2 separate regions of the Homo sapiens genome follow, and region 2 is linked to region 1. A link means that fine-mapping ties the variant in region 1 to the expression of a gene that starts in the linked region. Tissue or cell type: hypothalamus. Region 1 holds a variant in brackets; the other region holds the start of a gene. All regions are shown on one strand. Distances are between the middles of the regions.

The links. PIP is the estimated chance that this variant, and not a neighbour inherited with it, causes the effect.
Region 2: TMEM8B starts here. The variant in region 1 is fine-mapped to the expression of TMEM8B in hypothalamus (GTEx, PIP 0.99). The same link has a PIP of 0.9 or more in spinal cord.

What each region holds. Positions count from the first base shown.
Region 1 is chr9:35,847,579-35,855,679 of GRCh38, reverse strand. TMEM8B (transmembrane protein 8B) reads right to left here. Exons shown (of 13, transcript NM_001042590.4): 11 at 2,707-2,853; 12 at 2,423-2,539; 13 at 1-2,175. The coding sequence ends at 1,840. Among named protein-coding and RNA genes, the nearest start is that of OR13J1, 19 kb to the left of the region's middle. RefSeq lists enhancers at 7,086-7,205, 7,236-7,305, 7,496-7,635. The variant G/A (reference allele first, on the strand shown) is at 4,629.
Region 2 is chr9:35,824,850-35,832,950 of GRCh38, reverse strand. TMEM8B (transmembrane protein 8B) reads right to left here and starts at 3,723. Exons shown (of 13, transcript NM_001042590.4): 1 at 2,996-3,723. The coding sequence starts at 3,503. It overlaps FAM221B (family with sequence similarity 221 member B), which reads left to right and starts at 4,219. Exons shown (of 7, transcript NM_001012446.4): 1 at 4,219-4,488; 2 at 6,790-7,387; 3 at 7,578-7,721. The coding sequence starts at 6,790. RefSeq lists enhancers at 2,631-3,131, 6,495-6,854 and a silencer at 3,417-3,866.

The sequences.
Region 1 (8,101 bases):
GCTCACAACTGTAATCCCAGCACTTTGGGAGGCCGAGGCGGGTGGATCACCTGAGGCCGGGAGTTTGAGAGCAGCCTGACCAACATGGAGAAACCCCATCTCTACTAAAAATACAAAAATTAGCTGGGCTTGGTGGTGCACACCTCTAATCCCAGCTACTCGGGAGGCTGAGACAGGAGAATCACTTGAACCCGGGAGGCAGAGGTTGCAGTGAGCTGAGATCGCACCATTGCATTCCAGCCTGGGCAACAAGAGCAAAACTCCGTCTCAAAAAAAAAAAGATTCAGGAGAAAACATTAAGTAAGGCTTCCTCACCTCCAATATTAACGAAAGGGGGAAAGAAGAGAGAGGAGGAGAGGATGTAGTGAGAATACTGACACAGAGGGTCCCAAAAGGAAGAGTCCCTGAGCTCCACACCCCAGGCCAAGATAGATTTGCAGTTTTAACAGATGCAGCAACTCATGCCTTGTCTGTCAAAACCCAGAGCAGAAACAGCTTCAAGGTGTGTCTGCATAGCCAAGGCCTTAGACAACTTTACGGGTCTCCACATATGGCCCAGAAGTGGCAGAGAGAACCTTAGGACTGAGAGAGTAATGCAAATGGGAACAAGAAATCTCTCTGCATCCCAGATGAACTGTCTGGACCTCTGACTGGGGACCAGATGGAATGATGGAAATCCCGGGGATGGATGAAGTATGGACACTGGTGATCAGTGAGAATGCTCTCCCAACTTCTTGGCATTATGTAAGACCCTCAGAACTCAGCTATGACCCTCATGGAAAGAGAAGGAATCCCAAATGGACAAATGATCTTTTCTGGCACTCAGGAAAAATGGGGGCTCAAAACAGAAGTTACATTCTTGTGATATTTCTTGCACACCTGAGACGTGTACCTGCTATTCCAATTTCCTGGGACCTCGGCTTCCTTCTGTGTTGGGTGTGGGCATCATAAGGAAAGTCTGTCTCACTGATTTAAATCATCTCAGCATACGTATACATACATAAACACACACACACACACACACACCCCTCAGATACTGCAAATCGGGCTCAATAGGAATTGGGGAATAGGCATTAGAAACTGTTTAGAAATGAATGCAGGGCCCAGATGAGCGGGATCAGACTGTGTACAGGGTGTGACAAAAGCCTCCGGCAGTAGCTCCCATCAGCCCTGCTGATTCCCTGAGGGGCCCTCTTTCCCCACTTCCCCACACCCCTGACCCCAGGGGGAAAAAAGGCATCACAGAACCATTCTGAACCAATCAATCACTGGAGACACACAGACTCCACCTGTATCAAACGAGGATACCAGCCACCCAGACAGCCCCAGTCCCAGCTCCATCCATCCTGCAATCCCTCCTCCACAGCACAGCACAGCCCAGACGCTGCCTCTGGGAAGGAAGCCTGAGGCCAGAGTTGCTGAGCCTCTGGGAAAATCTGGAAATTTGGTTTCCCCAAGATAGACTCCACCTCCTCTGGAAAGATGCTGTGCTCCTGACAGGGCTTTGTCTCCCTGGGAAGGAATCCATGTCTTGGGAAGGCTCTGCATCCCAGGAAAGGCTCCACACCTGCAGGAGGGACTCCTTGGTCCTGAGGGACTCTGTGCCTGCATAGGCTCCAGTCCTTAAGAAGGACTCCATGATGCAGGGGGACTCCAGGCCCTCAGGAAGTTCTCCATGTCCTGGGAAGGGCTCCAGGTCCCTGGAAGAGTTTTGTGTCCTTGAGAAAGACTCCATGTCCTCAAGAAATACAGCCTGTCTCCTTCTAAGAGGGCTCCACACCCCCAGAAAGAACTCTAGGAAGCATTCATATCCCCTCAGGGCCAGGCCCAAAGCCCCTCTCAGCTGGCACAGATGCTGCTGACAGTGGCCCCTCCTGGGCCCACGAGGCCCAGCTCCTCCTGCTCGTTGATGCATAGCTGGTAACCACAGCCCCGGGCCCGGGCTCCAGATGGGACCCCGTGGTCAGTCTTGGCACGAGGGGGCAGCAGGAAGCCCACACTGCCCGCAATGAGCATATGCCAAATGCTGTGAATGTAGAAGTAGTTGTCCCGGGTCTCCACAAAAGCATAAAGCAGGACGGCACTGCCTGCAATAAGGCTGCCAGGGCACAAGTAGAAAAGCCAGCGGCGCCACGTGGGTGGGTAGCAGTGCCGGCGGCGGACGCTGCGTACTGTCTGGGGGAGACAGAGAAGTGGGGCTCAGGAATGCCAAGCCCTGGAACCCAAGCCAGAGCTGGTCACTCTCAGGTTTCCTCTGTATCCTGGTTGTGACCTAAAGACACCTGCCAAGACTGGAGCGGACACTGCCAGCAGCAGGTGATGACGACAGAGCCAAGCCCACCTTAAACTGGGGACCAGATACCTGGGGCCCAGCACCCAAGTCCTGCTGGGACCCTCCCCCCACATCCCTCCCCACCCTTACCCAGGCTGTGGCCAAGATCCCCAGGGCGAAGAGACTGGGTCCAAGCAGGTTCCAGAGTCCATGTCGGTCAAGCTGCAGAGCCATGGACAGCAGCATAGCTCCCAGCAAATACAGCACCTAGAGAAAGAGACTCAAGGGCTGGGCTAGGGCCAGGTGACAGACAGCACTCCAGGGCCTGGGTCAGAATCATGAGAGGCACTTGGAAATGCCCCCAGGGAGAGGTCAGGAGTGGATTTCAAGGAGACTTGGCCATGGTTGTTCCCCAGGGCCCACTCTGGACTGACCTGCTTGACCACGGGCTGTAAACGAGCCATGGCAATGACAGTGACCCACACGGACATTAAGGAGCCCAGGAAATCACAGAACTGCAGCACATCGTAGTCCATGATGCAGAAAACCACGATGCCTGGCTGGTCACAGGCATGATAGAACTGAAGGAAGAAATGACAGGCATTGAGAGAACTTGAGGCAGAGGTCCAGATCTACAAAACCGGAGGGGTGGGCCCAGGGGTGGTGTGCTGCTGTCAGTGCAGCAGAGGTGAAAGGTCACAGATGAGAAGATCTGGGAAATGCCTGACTCCCCAAATCCTGAGAAGAATGTGGTAAGGAGGTCCAGTCTGCTACATAACTAATATGTATCTGGCAGCCCTGACCCTGACCCTGAGCTTCCTAATCTTCCTGCTTCTGGAAGGTGCTGTGGAGAGTGCCCTGCCAGGGGGTTCTGATACCCTCAAGCTGAGGCCAATCCTGTCCCTGTCTCCTCATGCTCACCATGGATCCCACCTATAATCCCCATCCCTGGCCCAAGCTCTAAGCTACCCAGAAACCAAATCTCCCCACTATGTCCCAGTTTCCCCTGCTAGCTCAGACTCTGAACTGGGCTTCACTCTCAGGGCTTCCACCAACTGACCCTCTTCATCCCTTCCCAACAAATGCGGGGAGTGTGTGGCAGGTAAGAAAAAAGGCAGTCCCTAAGGCCATGGAGAGAGGCATGGCACTTCACACCATGGGGAAGAACATGGAGAGGGGACAGTGTCCACCCATCCTACACTCTGGAGAACATAGTGAAGAGTGGACTATTGAGGAGGTTCAAAGGGGATGCAGGGAGCAGAAGTGGAATCGGATCAGACTCAACTGGACATCCTAATTAAGGAACCAAGCAAAGTCTGCCATTAGCTCCCTTGTCTGTAGTTCCAACCCATGTCCAGATTGTCTCTCTGGACAATGCCATGGCTTCCAGCATCCTGTGTTCCCTTATTTGTGAAAAAAGTTTTCTAGGCATAACTCTTTAGTGGCAGAGATGCCACCAAAAAATCTGGAAAACATATTCCAAAGTCAGTCTCTAGAGACAAAAGATGAAAAAGAAATCGCTAATGTTTCCTTTGACCCTACTGAAGATGTCATCCAATCATTTAAACTGCAAAAATTACAACTTCAACAGACAAATTTGGAAAGGAAGAAGCTAGGATCTTAGAAAAAGAAAACAAAATGAAGACGAAAACCTGGGATATAAATTGGCATCAGGAAACTTTGGGTTTGATTCCTTTAAATTTTAAGCTGCAAGACTCAAGCTTGCGTATCTATCTTCTTTCTTTTCCTTCACTTTGGAGGTAAAGAATTTTGCTCCTGCAAAAAGAGACTGCCTAAGGATGAACATGTTTTAAGTGGGTGTTCCAGGCTTTCGAAAGGGCTTGTTATTTTGGGGACATGGTTCCCTCTTAATATACTGTTAAATTGAAAAAGTGAGTTCTCAATGGGAAATTTTCAGACTTTTCATGTAGGTCCATATCAACATTAGAATGAATTTTTTTAGGTTGGGTGCAGTGGCTCACGCCTGTTAATCCCAGCACTTTGGGAGGATGAGGTGGGCAGATCACTTGAGCCCAGGAGTTAAAGACCAGCCTGGGCGACATGGTGAAACCCCCATCTCTACAAAACACACAAAAATTAGCTGGGCACGGTAGCGTGTGCCTATAGTCCCAGCTACTTGGTGGGGAACAGGGAATTGGCGGGGGTGGGGGGCAGAAGGGGCTGAGGTGGGAGGATTGCTTGAGCCCAGGTCAAGACTGCACTGAGCTGTGATCATGCCACTGCACTCTGCCCTGGGTGACAGAACGAGACCCTCAAAAATAAATAAATAAATAAAAATGGTTAAGTAATTAATGTTTGAATACACCTAAGAGACTGGTTTATTTTTCAACTATTT[G/A]TATGTGCTGATTCATTGGGAGTTAATTTAGTTCCTAAACAAATCAATATATTGGTCTTTTTCTATTTTAGCTATAGGAAATTGATTATTCTTTGCCTCCAAGACCAGACATAAGTACTATAGGCCACTAAATTACCCAATACTGTTTTATGACTTGGATTTTATTTTAAAGAACTAATTTTACATCCAGCCTTAACCAAGCACTGGCTCCATATGCTTCACTTTCAAGTATATAGAAAGAAATACCCAGAAGTTTCTGGGAGAGAGATTTGTACTATATTTCAGACAAAGGAAGATATATATCAGCAGAAAAAAGGCAAAGCTGAATCACTAAACATTGAAGACACATCTAGGGGAATAATTGAGGGCTGACTTTCTCCTAGGAATTTGCACTAAAAGAAGAATAAAGAAAAATGGAGATATTATCTCTAGAGTGGAGAGGATTTGAAGAAATCATTTCACTAATATTTTACGACTAATTATTTTCCAGGTATACTAAAAGGTCAAAGAGATTGTTTAAGGTTGTGAAAAATCCACAGGGGTAGAGTTAAATTAAAATTGTAGTGTGAGGGAATTAGTCCACTAAAAACCGTGGACTAATTTTTAGATTGGCATTCCTTTTGTCAACAGCAATAAAAAGAAGTAGAAGTGACATAGAAAAATCAGGGAATTTAAGAAAAAAAAATTAGACTACAAACTGACTTCTATTAATATAATTCTAATCTAAGTTGATAACTTTCTCAGCTTTGGCCATTATTTATGAAGCAATGTAGGGAAATTATCCTGCAAGGTTTTTTTTCTGTGGAATTTTACATTTTTGTAACAGTGCATCTAATGCTCCAAAATGGGCTATCCAGGCACTGCAGAATGTGGACTATAAACGCAAACGTAGTTAATCCATGCCCAGATTGGAATATAATGGAACTTGCTGTTACTCCCTTATTTCCTGTTTTCTGCTTTCATTTTCTCTTGGAAACAGTTATGGGATTTTGCCAAGAGACAGTGAGAATGACCTGGGATGGTCTGAGGGATATAAGGCGTAATGAGAAGGTGGGCTTGTAGCCAGGATGCCAGCAATCAGCAAGGACACCTGCACAGCCCCAGAATGCCAGCTCTGTCTGGGTCTTCTGAGATCTAATTACAAGGATTCAAGGAGCACTGTGATGGATACACAGTTTGAACAGTACGGGTTCAAGTTGCACAATTAAAATGTTTGATATCTTTGTCCTGATGGTTTCTTATATTTGGCTTAGTTGTATTTTCAGATCTCTTGATCGGCTCTTATCTTTTAAGAATTTGGTGAGAACTACTAAACTGGGGCCATGCCTTTTTCTACATACTCCAGGACTTAAGAGAAACTGAAGTTGGGTTAAAAGCATATCAATGCATGCTCACTGCCCTGGTGCAAAGGGAGCAATATCATCTGTTACATGTGAGGGATCTGGAGTCAGGCTCACCCAGATTCTAAGGTAGATACTCACCTTCTACCTCAGGCAAAATATTTAACTTTCCCTTATCTACAAAAAAAGGATGACAAGAATAAAAGCATGTATCAACTATAACAGTACTATTGTGAGGATTAAATTAGCAGTGTCTGAAACAGCACATATTCAGTGTATGTCATTTTGTTGTAATCATTATCTGAATTGTTTGCCTATATACAAAAATCAAATGCTAAGTTTGTGGCCTGTTTTTGTTTTTTCAAAACATATTTTACATCTGTAAACTCCTGAATTATAAACCTACTGTCTGCTCCTATGTTCCAGATAAGAATGGATTACTACTCCCAAGTGTAGACTGTCCTGGATTATTTGAAGACAAGGAAGAGGACTGTTATCTCCTGTCCTAGTACTGACAACTGCAATTTGACCAATGGGTCCTTAAATGGACACTGCTGCAGAATGAAATAAGTCTACGAATGGCAAGGAGGGACCACAGAGAACCTGCAGGGAAAACAGAAAACATAGTTTTATGTTCTGGCCCATGTGGAAAAGAACAGGAGTGAGAGCAGGACTTTAGGCAACAACTCAAAGCCAGTAGCTTTTCCTTATTGCCTTATTTAAGAAAATGTGAGATTTTGGCCCGGCGCAGTGGCTCACACCAGTAATCCCAGCACTTTGGGAGGCCAAGGTGGGTGGTTCACGAGGTCAGGAGATCGAGACCAACTTGGCCAACATGGTGAAATCCTGTCTCTACTAAAAATACAAAAATTAGCTAGGTGTGGTGGCATGCGCCTGTAGTCCCAGCTACTCAGGAGGCTGAGGCAGGAGAATCGCTTGAACCTGGGAGGCGGAGGTTGCAGTGAGCTAAGATCGCGCCACTGCACTCCAGCCTGGGCAACACAGCAAGACTCTGTCTCAAAAAAAAAAAAAAAAAGAAAAAAAACAAAGAAAGAAACCGGGAGCTTTTTATGTGGTGCCAGGCACTTGAGGCTCTCCTAGTACTCCTGCTACAGGGAAGGTCTTTTCAGGCTGACAGCCACTGTATCCAGATAAGGAAGAGTCATCTAGCACTGAACACTCTGGAGCCAATCAGGATACTTGTGTCAAGTCCAGAGAGTGAATATGCTCTCCCTACATGCTTCAGGCTCCTGACACACTTAGGTATTCTTACTAATTATGAATCACATTCGATCTGCATGTAGCCGAGAGTGGGCTGGTAGAACAGCTGTTGCTGGAGGATTTGGTGAGCCACAGTAGAAAGGGCATCTGGCAATACGAAAGAGAAACAGTGTCTAACATAAAAATAGAATGAGGCACTGTGGGGGCAGGCCTAAAAAGGGGCCAATCAAGCAAAACTGGGGTATATGCTTCTCACCCAGCTTAAAGGGCCAAGATCTCTCTCTGCAGCATGGTTGCAGACTCTTCTTCCTCATCTCTGGATGAATCTCCAGGAGGACCCAGGCCCCTCAGTTTCAGCACATTTGCCCCTGCTTTCTCCCAGATGAGAACTATGATTTTTCTAATTTAGACATATGTCTGACCTAGTAATGCAGGATGCCAGGAAGGCCTGTCTTGCTTTCTGTGATATCCTTGCTGACAAGGCCTGAGCAGTCTGAAACCATCTAAGAGTTTTTGCAGTGCTCACATGCATGTCACATGGTGCCAAGAGCCTAGAGATGAGTTGAAAAGATTCCCAGATGTGACACTTCAGGGGTAAAAAGTCTACTTGGGGGTTAAGTAACATTAGCAGGCTCACTTCTCTACCTTTCCTTATAGTTTCTGGACGCTTGCTTATAATGAACTTTTCTGATTATGGAGGAGTGAGGAAAACACAGGAAAGAGATTGTGGCAATTCTGCAATGGGAATGGAGGGGTTTTAAACTATATTAATCTTCATCAAAATGCACTCCTTTGAGCTGGGATGTGATATGACACTGCCACTTCCGACAATGCCTCAGGACATAGTTGAGTCTGTAAAGCTTCTCAGGACTCTGAGAGTCAGATTGTCCTATAATCCCCCAATAGAGAGAT
Region 2 (8,101 bases), 23 kb after region 1:
CTAGGAACCCAGAGAGGCTACCAGTGCAGCATTCAGAGAGTGATAGAGATGCAGCCGAGAGGGATAAAGGGAAATGGGACCGACTGATGGAAGAGACGGGTTTCCTAGGAACCCTAGCTGTGCTAAGTAGGAGGCAGAAGGCTAAGAGGTGAACAGCCTGGATACTATTGTTAGAAGAAATCAGAACTCTAGCGCACCTTCTGCTGGGGTTAGGGAAGGGCTGATCCTCCTCAAAGCTGGTACCAGGGATGGGTCATCTGATCAACCATTGCTACCGTTAGGAGAAATGTTGGTCAGTCCCTCGGTGCAGACCCTCAGATGAGGGCTAGTGGTGAAAAGCAGTTTAATGACCTTTGGGAAACATGGACAGACAAGCACAAAGATCCTTGTAATTCAAAGGATCACAGTATGGCCTGGGGAACTGGGGAACTAGCTAAGCCATCCCCACAGTGGCCAGGGGCTACAGAGGTCACAGAATAGGCCAGTGAGATAAAGGAGTGAGCAGCAGCTGGGAATGCTAGGAGGAACTTGGAAGAAGTTCTGAGGGCAGATGCTTGAGAAAGGGTCCACAGCCCCATTCACTCCAAACTTTGGTTTGCGGTTTGAACAGGGCCTACCAGAGCTGTGTCCAGAAGAAGCATGAGTAAGGCCCTTACCGAGTTCAGATGAACTTATTCCAGGTTCCCCAATATTTCTATGATGAAGCTAGGGTAATTCCGACCATCACCCACCCCATACACACATACACATACACACACACACACACACACACACACACACACCCCTACACCTACACACATAGGCTGAGGCTGGCCCTGCTAGTAATAGCACTAGGTAGAATAAAAGCCCATTTTTTTTTGAATAGCAAGGCACGTGTGAGTCCTCAACTAAGCCCAAGGAAAAGATCCAAGGATCAGGAGTGGGACCACTAGACCCAAGAGATAACTTCCATTCCTGAAATGAAACCGAAGCAACCAATAAGCACTGTGCAGCCCTGTGCCATGATGGTCCTATGACACTGCCAGCCTCTCCTCAGACAAAACCCATCACCACCATTAGGTCACAGAGCACCCTGTACTTTGGTCCAAAATTGCCAAGGCATTCATTATTAACAGCACTAAAGGCAGCCCTGCCTCCATTTGGGTGTATTGGTACTCTTTTCCAACTTCATTACAATTCTCCCCAAAGCACCTGAACCTGCTTCTGGGCAACAGTGTTTTTATCCACAACTTTCAGCTGTATATGCTCTGTGGCTGTCGGTCACCCTGCTCCCCTCACCAGCCCAATGCTTGCTCAATGGGCACATGAAGAAGCCATGATGGCAGAGGATGGAAGCTAGGAACTTGGCCCAACAGCATAAACTTCCCCTTACCAAAACTGAAAACCTGACTGGCTACTGCCTCTGCCCAGTGTCCAATTTGCCAGCAGCAGTAATCAACACAGAGTGCCTCCACAGCTCCTTCCTTCAAAGGCACTGGCTGGGGATGGATGGATAACTTATATTCGTTATGGGAGGCATGCAACACTGCCCTCACCCTTGGAACTGCTGAGAAAGGGTCTCCAGCCCCATTCACAGCTTCAGTGATCTGTCCATATGAGGAGGAGGCAGAGCTGAAGAGGAATGTACATGGGCCACAACATGTCCCCTCCCCTTCATACCATAACACAGGCGCTCAGAAGATACACTGGCTCACATGCACCCCACACACATGCACGTGTCTACACTTAACAACACACAAGCATGTACACATGCTGCCAGCCTCCCCACAATCCCTCAGTTACACACATACACATAAGTGACCAGACATCTCTGCAGGGGTTGTGACCTTTCACGTGCATTCGTCTCCTTAAGTTTGTACACTGAACCAGGCCCCCAGAGCTCACTGATACCCATTCTCCACCCCCCAGCTGTTCTGTTGGCTGTTATTTCCAAAGACTCCATCAGGCACATCTCCATCCTATCTAGAGTGACACCCACCAGAGGTGGCTACAGACTTGGGCCATGAAGACTACAGTCACTCCATGATGGAGCCATCTTCATGGCACATCCCCTAGACCAGGACACCCCCTCCTCCTCCCACATTCCAACCATTAAAAAATTGGACCTCTCTCTCTTCTGTCCAAGTCACTTCCCCACCGGAGGGTGGCCCTTGGCTGACGCCTGGCAAATAAGGAACAGTTTGTGGATAAAGCACCCTTGTGGGCAGACCGGGGAGAAGGGAGGTTATGCTTTGAGCCTTTCCCCACTTGGGTCTATTTTTCTATTAAGTATACATTGCAGTGGATAAAAAAAAACACACTAGTATGAAATAGGAATTAGGAAACCTTTTTTCTAGCCCCAGCACACTGCCATTCACAAGCTCTCTGACTTTGGACAAATTGCTCCCTCCCTGAGCCTCAGTTTCCCCATCTGTAAAATAGCCTCCGAGTTTCAGCCCTGCTCTAAAAGTATCAGGAATTATTCCTAGGCAAATCAATCTTCTTTGGAACAAGAATCATTACAAGAAGAAAACTCATTATAATGGCAACTAATCCATATTCATCTATTTGCTACATATTATCTTTAAAACTCTTCTTCATGCCGTTTGAATGCATGCCCAATATCTCAAAGGTTTGGGCTATATATTCCCACACTACACTAGGGGCTTCTGGTGTGGGACTGTCTCTCCCCCATCAAACTTTGTGAGCAGGAGCAAAGCCCACAACATTTCCCTGGAAAAGCAAGAGTCAAAGTGGGGTCAGGACAGACACCAGAAAAAATCTTGGAGTCTCTGTGCTAGAAACTGTAAGCCACCTGCTGAGCCTCAAACCCAATTAATTACCACTCTTTTGACCCTGCCAATCCCTGTTGTGTAAGACCTCTCTACTCTCTATTTCTCCCACTTGCTCCCCAATGATCTAGTTCCCCAGGTCCCACCTCTCCTGAATCTCTCCAGCCCACCCCTCCCTGCCGGAACCCCATTCCTGCCTCAATCTTCCCTGCTTCTGCACTCACCAGCCCCTGGGCCAAGGACAGAGAACAGCAACAGCAGCAATAGGGCTGGCGGCAGCTGAAACCCAGACTTGAGTCTAGGCTGGGAGAGGGGCAGAGTATGAGAGATAGGGGGGACTAGAGGGAGAGACTTGGGTAAACACAGAGATGAGGGCAAAGGCTGAGATAATGGGTTGGGCTGGGCTGGACACTGGGGCTTGAACAAGGGCAGGGAGTGGGATGGAAGGAAGGGCTGTGATGGGGACTGCAGCAAGGGACGGGGTTGAGCCAGGGCCTTAAGCAAACACTGGGAATGGGGCTGGGACAGGGCCTGGGCTGGGATTTGTGACAGGGGGTGGAACGAGGGCCGAGGCCGGGATGGGGGCCAGGCCAGGGGCAGAGACTGGAAGGGGGTCCTGGATGGGGACCCAGGCAGGGGCTGGGGCCGATGTGGGAAGCGGGGCGAGGGCGGGGCTGGGGGCCAAGGCGGGGATTGGGATAGGACGAGGGGCCGGGACAAGGGCTGGGCCATGGCCCGGGGCGGGGGCGGGGCCGGACAGGCCAGCGCGGGGCGCTCGCAGAGCTGGCCCGCGGCTCCGCTCCCCACCCCCGGGGGGTGGCCTCCGGTGTCCTCGCGGGCCCGGGGCGGGGGCCGGGGACCTGGGTAGGAGTTCAGGCCTGGGCGACTCCGGGCTGCGCTGAACCGGCGATAACCAGGCCCCGCGGCGGCGGCCTCGACTTGACGTCGGCGTGACGCCCCGCCCCCCGGCCGGCTCGATTGGTCCCTGTCAGTAAAGCCCGCCCCCGCCCTACTCTATTGGTCCCCAACTTAGTCCTGCTGGGCTTCGAGGACACACAGACTCCGCCCCCGCCTCAGCTACCCGAGACCCTGCCTTTCTCACCCCAAGCACAGAGCCCGAGGTCCCCTCAGATCCTCACAGCCCCCAACGACCGCCCCACAGATGTCTCAAAGGAACCCTATCCTCACAATCCCAGACTCCCCCGGACGTACGCACAGATCTCCGCAGATCCTACCCAAACACTCGCTCACAGAGATCCCGCAACACACACCCCACTTTTCAGAAGTAAACCCTCTGGGCTCGCCCCCTCGAGGCCCAATGCAAGCCCCTCAGGAGACCTTACCCACCGGGGAGGTGACCAGACCGCCGTTGCCACGGAGACTACTAGGCGTTCCGGTTGCCCTGGTGACCGGCGCCTACTCTCCTGGCCCGGGTTCCGGAGGCTTCAGTCAAGACCCTCCCTCATTGGCCCTAGACCCCTTGTCCCTACCCACTTCCCCAGGTCATGCCAGAGCTCCTTTGCGAAGTTCTGCAGATATCCAAGTCCCCTTCCCAGATAGCAGACTTTCAGGCAAGGCATTTCAACACTCAGCACCTGCAGCTGAGGCACATCCACAACCAAGAGCCTTTCCTCCCTGAGGATCAACACCTCCCCCTGCCATCCTAAGTCAAGGTCTTGACCTAAGGACTTGTAACAACCAAGCCAAAGCCCAGAGGGTAGGTGGTTTCTCCAACGGCCCTTGCCCTCTTCCCTCAAAGACATCTGTCTTTCTCCCACCCCTCAGTCCCTTCACATTGTTGTAGTAGTAGTAGTAGTAGTAGTAGTAGTAGTAGTAGTAGTAGTAGTTGTTGTTGTTGTTGTTGTTGTTGTTGTTGTTGTTGTTGTTTGAGACAGAGTCTCGCTCTGTCCCCCAGGCTGGAGTGCAGTGGTGCGATCTGGGCTCACTGCAACCTCCGCCTCCCAGGTTCAAGTGATTTGCTTGCTTCAGCCTCCCCAGTAGCTGGGACTACAGGCGCCTGCCACCATGCCCAGCTAATTTTTGTATTTTTAGTAGAGACTGGGTTTCACCATGTTGGCCAGGCTGGTCTCGAACTCCTGACCTCAAGTGATCCACCCGCCTTGGCCTCCCAAATTCTGGGATTACTGGCATGAGCCACCATGCCTGGCCCACATTCTGTACTTTTCATCCTTACTCTCCTCCTCCACCCAATTTCCTCCTCCCCTTCTCTTTCCCCTTCCTCACCTCCCATCTTCTGGTTCTCCACTCTTAGGCCCCTTTTCTCTCTAGCTGACTCTGGTCATCTTCCTCCCTGTAATCCTACCTCTGCCCCTAATTCCCTTCCCAAACATCCCCTTCAAAAAGGCTCTGATGCATTTAAGGAGTGATATATCTAGCGTCTCTGGAACATGGGGGTAAAGTAGGGAGCACGGAAAGTTAAGGCAGGAATCCTCAGGCTGTGTTGAAAATGATGACAGGCCTTGAATGCCAGGGCCAAGAAATTTGGACTTAATCCTTTAGACTGAGTCATGGAATGTTTTTAAGCCACAAAGTGCCAGTTGTTGGGCTTGCACTTTAGAAAGATCCTGATTGGGTCAGGAAGGAGGACTACATCCTTGCAGGATAAATTAGGTATATCCCCCTCCCCACCGTATCCTAGACTCACCCCAGAACAACATCAATTTATTTGTATTGCCATTGTTGGTTAATCGGTCTCTCTCCTAGACTCAACTCAATCTAGAGCTTAGCACAGCGGGTCAGTAAAAGCATCAGATTAGGCTCATTGTAAAAGTATAAGTTACATAAATCCATGAAAGAATGGGTGAATGGATTAAAATGCTGTGGATGGAAGTAGAGGGGCAAAGTTATTACACAAAGGCTGAAGATGATGAGAACTTGAATAAAATTGGAAGGGAGAGGAGAGAATGCATTTGGGGAATATTTAGAAGATAGGAAATAGAGTTATTGGTGCCTATTTGAAGATGGAGTCTAAGGGAAAAGGAAAAGACTAGGATAATTCCCAAAGTTCAGTTTTGCTGTCTGTGGAAACACTCAGTTAGAAATGACCAGCAGGGGCCAAGCACGGTGGCTCACTCCTGTAATCTCAGCACTTTGGGAGGCCAAGCAGGGCAGATCACCTGAGGTCAGGAGTTCAAGACCAGCCTGACCAACATGGTGAAACCCCGTCTCTACTAAAAATATAAAACTTAGCCGGGCATGGTGGCACACGCCTGTAATTCCAGCTACTTGGGAGGCTGAGGCAGGAGAATCACTTGAACCCGGGAGGCGGAGGTTGCAGTGAACCGAGATTGCGCCACTGCACTCCAGTCTGGGCAACAGAGCGAGACTCCATCACAAAAAGAGAAGAGAAGAGAAGGCCAGCAGGCAGGTGGGTATGAGTGTGAAGTACAGAGGTTGAAAAAGGTCTGAGCTAGAAATGTGAATTTAGGAGTCATTGGTACACAACTGGAAGTAGTTAAAGCTTTGAACATGAATGACATCATTAAGGGAGGAGGATGTGTGTGGTGCCTAGACAAAACCAGGCTGCGTGCAGTGTCTTGCCTTATGTGACAGCATTCCCCTGCACTCTCAGGAGCCAACCCCAACTTTGGCTTGGTATTGCCAGTCTCTAGAACTCCATGGTCTGACCTCCAGGGTTTTAAGATATGCCAAGGACCCTGCTCTTGGACTGCCCAAGTGGTGTTGTTCAGACTCCCTCCTGGGACATGGTTCTCTGCTACCATCTACTGATGGGATTCGAACTACTTCAGTCTTTCAATCTTTAAGTTCCAGCTCCCTAACAAGCCACAGCAGCATGCCATATGAGGTCTGGACACATGGGTGAACCTTTTGGCATCACACTCTAGGACCCAGAGTTCATGTTGTTTCCCTCTTATATCTCAGCTGCACTGATATCCTTATCCAAATTCCATAATGCACTGCGAACCCTGGGCTCTGCCCTGACTTGCCGGCCCTCTATTTCCAACCTAATGAAGCCTGTACCCTGTTCTACCACTAGATGGAAGCACATGAGATCATAGAAGAGCCTCATATCACCATGGATGCAGAGAAGCACCCCCCTTCAAAGGACCCCTCTGCTGAGGACTTACAGGAGAACCATATCTCTGAAAGCTTCTTGAAGCCTTCCACCTCTGAGACCCCGTTAGAGCCCCATACCTCTGAATCCCCTTTGGTGCCATCCCCTTCCCAGATCCCCTTAGAGGCCCATTCCCCTGAAACCCATCAGGAGCCTTCCATCTCTGAGACTCCTTCAGAGACCCCTACCTATGAGGCTTCATTGGATAGTCCCATCTCAGTGGTGCCAGAGAAACACCTTACTCTTCCTCCCCAATCACGAGACTATGTCTGTCTGTCTTCTTCTGATACTCTGAAGGAAGACCTCTCCTCTGAGTCTTCTTCCAATGAGGTCCCATGGACAAGGAGGTCTACCCATCTCTCTGAATCTGAGAGCCTTCCAGAACACTGTCTTTCAGGCCCTTCATCCCAGGTCCAAGTGGACACAACCGAAAAGCAGGAGGAAGAAGCAGGAGAGGTTGAAAAGGGAGTAGATGCCAGTGACAGCACTGCTCACACAGCCCAACCTGGACACCAACTAGGCAAGAAGAAGAAGAAGAAAGGAGTTAGCTGTAATTGTACCTGTCCTCTCCCCTGTCCTGTTCTCACTACTATTCACTGTCCTTGACTTGCCCCAGGAGGAGGAGACTGGGTTACTCTTGGACATGGCCCCTTCTCTTAGTTTTAGGGCCTTCTCACTTCCCCCTGGTTACTCATCCTCTCCCATCCTAGGTAACACAGCCCGCCCAGTGTTCCCTGCTAGGCAGACAGAGCTGGTGGAAGTGGCTAAGGCAATGCATAGAGAGGAGTTTGGTGCTCAAGTGAACAATCTTTTCCAGTGGGAGAAGGATGCAGCCCTGAATGCCATCCAGACAGGTGAGCCCATGTGGCCTTTCAGAGGCCTGTGACAGGCCCATGGGCATCCTCTAATCCAAAAGATCTGGGAACCTGAACATTCAGCAGATAGCTTCCCCTTTTGGAAATGGCTATACCACCTGCCTGGAAAAGGAGCAGGCAAGTGGGCCAAGGAATACAAGGGTGGATGCAGACAAAAAGTGGGGAGATTCATATAAAGCCCAGGTAGAGACAGGTAGCTGAACTAAAATTATTAAACACAGAAGGGTCGGCTGGGCGCGGTGGCTCACGCCTGTAATCCCAGCACTTTGGGAGGCCGAGATGGGCGGATCACGAGGTCAGGAGATCGAGACTGTCCTGGGTAACACGATGAAACCCCGTCTCTACTGAAAATACAAAAA